3 linked regions of the Homo sapiens genome follow. The protein of the gene in region 3 interacts with the protein of the main gene of each other region in a pairwise test. Each region holds a gene or a part of one and is shown on either strand. Other genes may lie near its edges. The genes, in order: NEFL, SYAP1 and NDN.

Region 1 (3,750 bases), on a different chromosome or scaffold from region 3:
TTAAAATGGAGATCTTTTTAAAATTGTATTTTTTCTACTCCCCAGAAGATGGAGATGTTTAAACAGAAATGTTGTAGAAGATTTTACACATAAAGAAAAAAAGAAAAAAAAAAGGTAAAAGGAAATGGTTTACTATGAACATCACTAGTTAACTACCTAAAACAATGTTGACTATTTTCCTGTCTACCTACTAAATAAAGGAAGGGAGTGGTTGGTAAAACTAGTCATAAAGCATGCTGGTCACAGTAATCCTTCAGAATTAATTGAGAGTTGTTCACTCTACTATTTATTAACTAGATGATCCGATAGTTGCTGCAAAGTAACTTGTGGTTAATGCAGGTCAGTAGAGAGCTGATCTCACTGCAGGCCGGAGGCAACGCCCAATTCCCACGTCTTCCCCTCCCCCACCCAACAAGGGCTGGGCAGCTTTAATGCGGAACGCCGGTGCAGCAGCACGGAGCACACTCCCAGACTACAGTGGCGCCCGCACTCACGCCCTTCAAGTGCCCCACCCCTCCCACACAGTGGCCAAGGAGCCAAGCCCTATCCCTAAGAGCTGCGTGCAGCCGCACCACCCCTGGTCTCCACTTTCTGGGCGCACCAACTCCCCCCCTTGCTCGAGTCCCCCGCCCCCCTGTGTTTCTGGCCGTGCCGCACCTGCATAGCGCTGATGTCGGCGTTCTGCTTGTCCTCCAGCTCCTGCAGCTGCTTCTCCAGCGCTTCATTCATGCCCCGGCATGCTTCGATTTCCAGGGTCTTGGCCTTGAGCAGACGACGGCTCTCGGACACCTCGTCCTTGGCGGCGCGCACGGCGTCGGTGTTCTTGGCGGCGCTCTCGGTCAGCACGGTGAAGCGGCTCTTGAACCATTCCTCAGCGTTCTGCATGTTCTTGGCGGCCAGCTTCTCGTACTGCGCGCGGATGTCCTTGAGCGCGGCGGAAAGGTCGGGCTTGGTCACGTCCATCTCCACGGAGATCTGCGCGTACTGGATCTGCGCCTGCAGTTCGGCGATCTCCTCTTCGTGCACTTTCTTCAGAAAAGAGATTTCGTCCATCAAGCTGTCGATGCGCTTCTCGAGCTCGGCGCGAGCGAGCGCCGCCTCGTCGGCGCCTTTGCGCGCTTCCATCAGCCGGCCCTCGGCGTCCTCGCGGCTCAGCACCTCCTCTTCATAGCGCGCCTGCAGGTTGCGCAGGGTCTCCTCCAGCCCTTCGCGCTCGCCCTGGAGCGCCTGCTTCTCGTTGGTGGCATCTTCCGCCGCCAGGCGCAGGTCGCGGATCTCCTGCTCGTACAGCGCCCGGAAGCGGGATGGCTCGGAGTGCTTCTGGCGCAGCACCAGCAGCTCGGCTTCCAGGACCTTGTTCTGCTGCTCCAGCTCGTGCACGCGCTCGATGAAGCTGGCGAAGCGGTCATTGAGGTCCTGGAGCTGCGCCTTCTCCTGCGTGCGGATGGACTTGAGGTCGTTGCTGATGGCGGCTACCTGGCTCAGGTCGAGGTTCTCCAGACTGGGCATCAACGATCCAGAGCTGGAGGAGTAGCTGCGGCGCACGGACAGCGAGGAAGACACCGGCGCCGAGTAGCTGGAGTAAGCTGAGCGTGCGGTGCTGTAGCCGCTGCGCACGCTGGAGATGTGCACCCGGGGCGTCTCCACGTAGCGCCGCTTGTAGGAGGTCGAGTAGTACGGCTCGTAGCTGAAGGAACTCATGGTGGCGGCCGGTGGCTCCCCGGCCCGCGGCGGCGGTGGGAGCCCGGAGAGAGAGGACAGGGGAGAGAGGGAAGGGGGAGGATGGATGGCTGTGTGCGGCTCGGCGCCGTTCTGCCACCCCTATTTATACGCCGGGAGGCTCCTGACGCAGCCTGCGATCGATCACGGCACGCCGGCCAGTGGGGGCAGCGCGCTGCTGCAGCCAAGGCGAGGATTCTGCGCAAAAGGGAAGGCGGGGTCGAGCTACGGCCCGAGGAGCTGCGGCGGTCGTCCTTTCCACTTTGCTCAGAGGGCCCTGATTTTCTCTGAGATCCCATGCCCCCTCACTCATTTCCCTTCTGTACTCACTCACGCAGCCCCTCCCGTCCTGCATTGCCCAGACCCCGTGACACTTGGATCCTTAAGTTGCCCCCAAAACAGGTTCTTGCTCCCTTTTGACACCCTAGTTTTCTGTATCCCGTCACCTCGCAGACACCCTGTCCCCCCAACTCGCCCTTTTCCCACCAGGAACCTCCTTAATTTTTTCCCTTGGTGTTTACGGTGATGGTGCGGCTAGGGAATTTTAGATACAAATAAATAGGCTAGGTTATGTGTATGCAGTATGTATGGAGAAGAGTTTTAATTTCTTTCTAGCTTTCTGGCACTTTCTGCAATTCATCTTCCTTTCTCCTGATTATTTTTCTTTTTCTTTAATGAGCTGCTTAACACATAGGGAATGTGCGCGCGAGTGCGCGCGCGCGCGCGCACACACACACACACACACACACACACTCGTGAAACTGCGGCACTACTGCAGGTATTGGTTTAGCATTTTTAAACCTTTACAGCAGTTAATCCGCCTGTTAGTGTTTCTAGATTTTCACATTTCTTAACTGAGAATGAAGCCGCAGATGGCTTTAACGTGTTGCAGTGTGTGGGTGGTGGAGGGCAGAGAAAGAGTTGGAAACACAGAGACTGACTTGCTGAGGCAGCCGCGCGCTCCGCAGCCGGGAGCTTCAAGCTGCCTGGATCCTCACCAAGCTAAATTCCTGCTTGCTACCACCAACCGCAGCACATTTAAAGTCCGCTTTCCTCTTTTTACACATGTGTAGCACACGACCTGATGATTTCGATAAGCCTTGCAGTTGGCTGATTTTCAGGGAAGCCGCTGCGGCCAGCCCTGAGCGCTGGGTGTGGTCTCTGGGGAGGAGAACTCGGCACCCAGGCTTCTTCAGGAACGGATAGAAAATAGCCATAGCCGCGTGACTCTTCCCCCGATACAATGTAATAACCCGAAAACAGATGCAGTCAGGAATGCATGGATTTCCTTCAGGAAGCACCCAGATGCTTGAAACTGGCGCACGCGGTAGCGCACGTGGATACAACCCTACGGTTTGCAGGGCATTTTCACACGCATGATGTTAGGAGTCCCCCAGGTTTCATGGAGGGATTGCAGAGATTTACACGAAACACCTAAGATTTATCTGAGCAAGCATTTAGTTTTTGTTTTATTTGTATATCGCAGCATTTGATGTGCAACTTATGTTTTTTTTAAGAGGCAAACTGAGGGGGAATATGGTAACTGTTTTCAAATAGAGAAGCCGGAATGGCTTCCCCTGTGATACTTGGAGGGTGAAGTATTTGCAGTGGTGCAGTTGCTTCTGGAGACATTTCACTCCTCTCCCGAGGAAAGGATGGGGTGAGGCTTATCCTCAGAGGCCCTTTCTCATCCCCCCCCCCAAAAAAAATACCTGTGATTGTGATAGCCCACCGTCCTCATGATAGACTGCAGCAGATAACTTTCCTCGGGTTTCTAAACAATGTCTGTTGTCGCAAATAATGCAAATTCACAAATATTGAAATTAGTAGTTTAAATCTATCAAGACTAAGTGATCTCAGAGGACCATCCATGCCCAAATATTCTAGATTTCAAGCCTAAGGTCATGAGGCTGTCCTGAATATTGTTTGTCCCTGGCAGGTTTGGTAGGGTACTTACTCTGTTGACTTTTCATAGCCTAGCTATCCTTGGTCTTTTCACTCATGAAATTCAAGGGTGGAATAGGCTTCTCT
Region 2 (3,750 bases), on a different chromosome or scaffold from region 3:
ACACGGTGAAACCCCGTCTCTACTAAAAATACAAAAAAAAATTAGCCGGGCCTGGTGGTGGGTGCCTGTAGTCCCAGCTATTCGGAAGGCTGAGGCAGGAGAATGGCATGAACCTGGGAGGCGGAGCTTGCAGTGAGCCGAGATCGCGTCACTGCACTCCAGCCTGGGTGACAGAGCGAGACTCCGCCTCAAAAATAAATAAATAAATAAATAATAAGTTTTTGGCCCTGGTGCAGTGGCTCACATCTACAATTCCAGCTACTCGGGAGGAAGCTGAGATGGGACAATCACTTGAACCCGGGAGGCGGATGTTGCAGTGAGCCGAGATCACACCACTGCACTCCAGCCTGGGTGACAGAGCAAGACTTCATCTCAAAATAATAATAATAATAATAATAAATTTTTAAAAGCTGGCATTCTCCTTGACTGTAGACATGTACATGGAAGATTCTTTTCCCAGCTGCTGCATGCCAAAAGAGCATTGCTTCTGGGAAGGAGCAGGCTGCTTTTAAAAACCAGTTTTCTTTTTGAGATAGGGTCTCACTCTGTCACCCAGGCTGAAGTGCAATAGTGCCGTCATAGCTCACTGCAGCCTCAAACTCCTAGGCTCACACCATCCACCCACCTCAGGCTCCAATGTAGCTGGGACTATAGGCGTGTGCCACCACACCAGGCTAATTTTTTTAATTTTTTGTAGAGATGGGGTCTTGCCAGATTGCCCAGGCTGATCTTGAACTCTTGGGCTCAAGCAATCTTGCCACCTCAGTGTCTCTAAGTGCTAGTATTATAGGTATGTGCCACCATGCCCAGCCCAACAGTCTTTTTTTTTTTTTGAGATGGAGTCTCACCCTGTCGCCCAGGCTGGAGTGCAGTGGTGCAGTCACGGCTCACTGCAACCTCCACCTCCTGGATTCAAGCGATTCTCCTGCCTCAGCCTCCCAGGTAGCTGGGACTACAGGCGTGCACCACCACACCTGGCTAATTTTTGTATGTTTTGTATCGCTATGTTGGCAGGCTGGTCTCGAACTCCTGGCCTCAAGTGATCTGTCTGCCTCGGCCTCCCAAAGTGCTGGGATTACAGGCATGAGCCAACATGCCTGGCCCCAATAGTCTTTTATATATTATATATCTTGGCTCCAGGACTAAATTGTAAGATCCCCAAGGGCAGTTACACATTGTCTTTCTGTCCCCCTACAGTACCTAATGTGGAACTTAGCACTCAGTAAGCACCCTAATAAATATTTGTGAAATTGGTGGCTTCCTGCACAACACAGGGTGTCTTTTCCTTTGAGGTTGCTGCTGTAGAACGATTAAAGCATTTCATTTTTGTTTTCTCTATAGCTAAGTTTAAGGTTTATTTTTAAAGACAGGCTGGGCACGGTGGCTCATGCCTGTAATCCCAGCACTTTGGGAGGCTGAGGCGGGCGGATCACGAGGTCAGGAGATCGAGACCATCCTGGCTAACATGGTGAAACCCCGTCTCTACTAAAAATACAAAAAAAAAAAAAAATTAGCCTGGCGTGGTGGTGGGTGCCTGTAGTCCCAGCTACTTGGGAGGCTGAGGCAGCAGAATGGCCTGAACCCAGGAAGCGGAGCTTGCAGTGACCTGAGATCATGCCACTGCACTGCAGCCTGGGCAACAGAGCAAGACTCCGTCTCAAAAAAAAAAAAAAAATACAAAAATTAGCCAGGCGTGGTGGCAGGCACCTGTAATCCCAGCTACTTGGGAGGCTGAGGCAGGAGAATCGCTTGAACCCAGGAGGCAGAGGTTGCAGTGAGCCGAGACCACACCATTGCACTCCAGCCTGGGCAACAGAGTGAGACTCTGTCTCAAAAAAAAAAAAGAGACAAAAATGAATCTTAGCTTTACTTTTTAAATAGCCAGTTTGTTTTCTCACCATTTTATAACATTACATAGCAGATGCATTATCCTACACACACAGAGGTATATTGAGTGTCTGTGTAGAAAGTTGCAGGTCTAAATCTCAACGCGGAAGACCAGTGTGAGAGCTCCAGTCAGAACACCATGAGAGAGTCCAGGCTGACTTCAGACCCCGGTGTCTGTCTCCACTCTTAAGGAGACAGCTCTTTGTATAGTGGTTAAGCATAGACTGTGGAGCCTGCAGATGTGGTTCCATCCTTATATCTGTCGCTGTCAAACGGTGTGATCTTGGGCAAGTTGCTTAACCTCTCCTAAGTCTCCATTTCCCTATCTATAAGATGTGGCAAATAGTAATACCTTGTCCATGGACTGTTCCAAGGGTGAAAAGCGTGATACATAGAAAGCAGTTGGGCCAGTGCCCAGCCCAGTAAGTGCTCAATAAACATTAGCTGCTTTTGCTACCATCATCATCATTGGTAGTGGTAAAAATTAACTTGCAACCAAGTATTAATTATCATTTACCCATTTAAATAAAAGGAAATGCAGAGGCATAGGGAAAGCAAAATAACACCCAAAATATATTGATGACATCTGATACCTTTGCTTCTACATTAACAGATTTATCTTTCTAATTGTGTTTATCCTTGGTCACTGTTAAAATTTACTGAGTTTTTCTGAGCACACATAGTAGTGAAGCCTGAGATACTAAAAATTACAGCAGCTAGGACTTTACGTAGGTAATTGAGATGGACCGAATTGTGAACACCAGCATTATGAATTCAGAGAGAATCTTTTTCTTCTCCTTTGTTTCTTTTAGAGGATTCTGCAGATTGGGAAAAAGAACTGCAGCAGGAACTTCAAGAATATGAAGTGGTGACAGAATCTGAAAAACGAGATGAAAACTGGGATAAGGAAATAGAGAAAATGCTTCAAGAGGAAAATTAGCTGTTCCTGAAATAGAAGAATAATCCTTAACAGTCTGCAAACTGACATTAAATTCTAGATGTTGACAATTACTGAATCAGAAGGCATGAAAGAGTATAATTTTATGAAATTCAAAATTATTCTTTTTTCAAGTTGAAACTTGCCTCTTCTACTTTAAAAAAGTATATAGAACAGTTACTTCTAATAATCAGAAAGAGATGTTTTATAGAACATTTCTTTAATATAAAGTTAGAGATGTCTTCATAGGCAGTATGGCTATCTTTGCCACAGAAACATAAGTAAAATTTTAGAGTTCTGTTTTCCATGAGGTCAAAAATATAATTTATTCCTCAGTCATGGTTTTCTAAATATCTGTACTCCACATTCCATTTTAATTGATATGAGGGTGTTAAAGTACCTACTTAATGGGTTGATTACTATCAAAATGACCAAATTATACCAAAGAACTTAAGAGGAAGCACTTTCAGAACTATTCACTTGCCAGGTATTTTCTAAAATTCCACCTGAAAGCCAAAAGATAAAATAAATAAGTTGATTTTAATGATATAAGCATCACACAATTTTACATTAAGAAATACTGTGCAGGCCATGCGTGGTGGCTCAGGCCTGTAATCCCAGCACTTTGGGAGGCCGAGGTGGGCAGATCACCGGAGGTCAGGAGTTCGAGACCAGCCTTGCCAACATAGTGAAACCCTGTCTCTACTAAAAATACAAAAATTAGCCGGGCATGGTGGCAGGCACCTGTAATCCCAGCTACTAGGGAGGCTTTTGAACCCAGGAGGCAGAGGTTGCAGCGAGCTGAGATCGCGCCACTGCACTCCAGCCTGGGTGATAGAGTGAGATTCAGTCTCAAAAAAAAAAAAAAAAAAAAGCTGTGCGAAAATATTTGTTTTTCTCTGGGGCCTTTTCTTTCTTTTCTTTTT
Region 3 (3,750 bases):
GACCTCCTGACCTCAGGTGATCTGCCCGCCTCACCTTCCCAAAGTGCTGGGATTACAGGCGTGAGCCACCGCACCTGGCCTAAATATTTTATTTAAATAGTTAGAAAATAATACATACCCAAACAAAATAAAGAATAATATTGATGGAGATTTAAATGCAATAAATGAGGATTATATTTATGAAGCATGGGGGTAATAAGTCTGTTCAAGAGACATTCTTAAAAACAATGAATATAATTAGCATATTTCTGTAAGATGTTCCCAAGAAAATGGTAGATATCTATAAATAGAAGAAGGAGAAAAAGGAGAAGTAGATGGAGAGGAGAAGGAGGAGGTGGAGGAGGGTGAGGAGGAGGAGAAAAGTGTTGAAATAATTCCAACTAAGACTGATATCTAGGAATTACCCTGGTGAAGTGGGAAGCTTAAGAGTCCTGTTGGAGGGACTGGTGTGGTAATGGCTCTGCCAAAAGTGTTATGTGCGTGCAAACCCAAAGAGAGAAAGCACAGAAAACCTTTCAACATCAACCTGCTTGAGGAAAAATAAAGTGGGAAAAGATACATACTCACAGTGAGGACTCTAGACATGTCAAGACAATTTTTAAATATGCTTTTGGCTTCGAGTGGCAATAACTAGATTCAAGACAGCATATTTAAGAAGCTGCTGATGAGAAGAAACCCGGGAAGAGCTGAAGGACCACATCAGCCCAGACCAAGGATGCTGAAGCAGCATTAAGGTCCCTGGTTTCAGATGCTCAGGCAATGACCCTTTTTTTCATGGAGAGCCTGTAGGAGTGACAGTTTTGTCTTTGCCCACTGGGAATCTGTTTTCCATACCTGGAAAACAGGGTTACCTATGTTTCCCCTGCTACCCTTTGGTCATCTCAGAGACACTACCAGATATTACCCATGGGACCTATTTTTTTTTTAAATCTCAGGAAAGACTTGGGTGTGGCTTCCAACGTGGAGGACTCAGTAGCTTCAGAGAGGGTCCTGAGAGAAGGTGAATTGAAGAATGAGGGTGCTGGGCAGAGGGAAAAGACATTATCATACAAGTTTGTGCTAAAAGATATAGCAATCCTTCTGCTATGGACTAAGTATGGAAAAAAATAAAATGGAATCAAAGTTACCCAAAGGAAGTGTAAAACCCAAATTTATGCCCGTTAAAGCATTAATGATGCTCTAAGTCCACTGCCTACTTAAAAAGTTCATAGTTCACATGGGTTGATAGGAAATTACGTTAACGACACACTGCATTTCCCCTTTTCTTATAGCCTATCTGATTTGGTAGGGAGTCGATCATTTTTTATTGGAATTTCTCAGGATTCCAACCTCAGACATCCACTTTACAGTTTACACATTTTCTTGGACAAGCCCGACTGTTCCTCTCACTGGTTCGCATAAAGCTCATGTTTACAAAGCCGCCCAGACCTTTCTCTGGGACTCTCATATTTAACTTAATTCTGGATATACCCAGGTAAGCGTTTCCCAAGAAACTTGACCCCAACATCCCAAAAACTTAAGGTATCTTTCCCTTAAACTGGCCCCTTCTCCAGTACGCATCCATCTCACTTCTCTCCTGCCCTAGATCTTCTCAGCCCAAACAGGAAACCCCGGGATCGCTCTCCCAGCAGGTGAAGCCTCGCCATGGACCCTCCCCGTCGGGGCCCCGCGCTGCCCCGCCCGCCCCCAGCCGCTGGCCAAGGCCGCGGTCGCGCAGGCGCAGTGCCGCGTCCCGCCGCCGCCCCGCCCTGCCCGTCGCTGCGGAAGGCGCCGCGCGCAGCAACGCGCACTTCCTCTCCAGGAATCCGCGGAGGGAGCGCAGGCTCGAAGAGCTCCTGGACGCAGAGGCCCTGCCCTTGCCAGACGGCGCAGACATGTCAGAACAAAGTAAGGATCTGAGCGACCCTAACTTTGCAGCCGAGGCCCCCAACTCCGAGGTGCACAGCAGCCCTGGGGTTTCGGAGGGGGTTCCTCCGTCCGCGACCCTGGCAGAGCCGCAGAGCCCTCCTCTAGGCCCGACGGCCGCTCCGCAGGCCGCGCCGCCTCCCCAGGCCCCGAACGACGAGGGCGACCCGAAGGCCCTGCAGCAGGCTGCGGAGGAGGGCCGCGCCCACCAGGCCCCGAGCGCGGCCCAGCCGGGCCCGGCACCGCCAGCCCCGGCGCAGCTGGTGCAGAAGGCGCACGAGCTCATGTGGTACGTGCTGGTCAAGGACCAGAAGAAGATGATCATCTGGTTTCCAGACATGGTGAAAGATGTCATCGGCAGCTACAAGAAGTGGTGCAGGAGCATCCTCCGGCGCACCAGCCTCATCCTCGCCCGGGTGTTCGGGCTGCACCTGAGGCTAACCAGCCTGCACACCATGGAGTTTGCGCTGGTCAAAGCGCTGGAGCCCGAGGAGCTGGACAGGGTGGCGCTGAGCAACCGCATGCCCATGACAGGCCTCCTGCTCATGATCCTGAGCCTCATCTACGTGAAGGGCCGCGGCGCCAGAGAGAGCGCCGTCTGGAACGTGCTGCGCATCCTGGGGCTGCGGCCCTGGAAGAAGCACTCCACCTTCGGGGACGTGCGGAAGCTCATCACTGAGGAGTTCGTCCAAATGAATTACCTGAAGTACCAGCGCGTCCCATACGTGGAGCCGCCCGAATACGAGTTCTTTTGGGGCTCCCGGGCCAGCCGCGAAATCACCAAGATGCAAATCATGGAGTTCCTGGCCAGGGTCTTTAAGAAAGACCCCCAGGCCTGGCCCTCCCGATACAGAGAAGCTCTGGAGGAGGCCAGAGCTCTGCGGGAGGCTAATCCCACTGCCCACTACCCTCGCAGCAGTGTCTCTGAGGACTAGCAAAGTCTGGAGGCAGATGAATGGTTTCTGACCCTCACCAGGGCTGTGGAAGGGTGGGGGTGGGTCATTATAGTATTCAGGATTTACAGTGCAGTATTCACGTGTAACTTTTAAGTTTTCAGTACAGTGCTTTTATACCTTTAATGCAATGTTGTATTCATTTGGGTACTATTGTGTAGTATTTAGGATGTATGCATGTTTGTTTATATGTAAGCTTGGTTGGTGCTTTCGCTTTTGTGCTACCTTTCTTGGATTTTTGTACCAGAGATGTGCTAAACTGATGAAATACATTGAGAAAGTTTCCATCTTATTCTTTTATATGGGACTGATGATGTGTGTTGGGGTAGACTGCTCCTGCAGAGTTTGGAAGAAGTCACCAGCAAAGCCGGCCTAACCAAGAAAAGTCAAGGCCCTTCATGACCTTGCTGGGCACAGAAAACACCCTCGTGGAGTACACTAATTTGAACTGGACTGGTCTCAGTGTGAGCACTTGGCACACTTTACTAAACACATATACAACCCCACCGTGAGTCAACTTTAAAGTAAACATTAAAGATTCTTGTGATACAATCATTTTTGGAAAAGTGTACTTTATCATTTTAACAAAGCAGTATGGTTGGGAATGAGACAATTCTCTATTTTACAGTGTATACAGATACAACTATTTCCCCTAATAGGGTGGGAAAAATCGCTACTCATGATTACTCCTAAATTTGTGAAGTTTATAGTTCTATTGTCTTTAAATGTAACTCATGTTTATTTCAAAAACATTCACAAATATAGAAAAGTATACAAAACAAAACAGTAAGATTGTCTGTAATCACATCATATGGGAATAAAAAACAAAAATAATTTCCTTCCCTTAAGTTTCTACATTTTATCAAAATTAATAGATGTCTTGTGACATCTA

Evidence for each region.
Region 1: the proteins of NDN (region 3) and NEFL interact in binary tests that used the Homo sapiens proteins (3 or more experiments, as listed by UniProt).
Region 2: the proteins of NDN (region 3) and SYAP1 interact in binary tests that used the Homo sapiens proteins (3 or more experiments, as listed by UniProt).

The regions. Positions count from the first base shown.
Region 1 is NC_000008.11:24,954,815-24,958,564, forward strand, and holds the start of NEFL (neurofilament light polypeptide), read right to left. Parts: upstream 1,799-3,750; 5' UTR 1,702-1,798; coding exon 658-1,701; intron 1-657. UniProt on the Homo sapiens protein: Neurofilaments usually contain three intermediate filament proteins: NEFL, NEFM, and NEFH which are involved in the maintenance of neuronal caliber.
Region 2 is NC_000023.11:16,757,533-16,761,282, forward strand, and holds part of SYAP1 (synapse-associated protein 1), read left to right. Parts: intron 1-2,699; coding exon 2,700-2,827; 3' UTR 2,828-3,750.
Region 3 is NC_000015.10:23,685,342-23,689,091, reverse strand, and holds NDN (necdin), read left to right. Parts: upstream 1-1,786; 5' UTR 1,787-1,874; coding exon 1,875-2,840; 3' UTR 2,841-3,692; downstream 3,693-3,750. UniProt on the Homo sapiens protein: Growth suppressor that facilitates the entry of the cell into cell cycle arrest.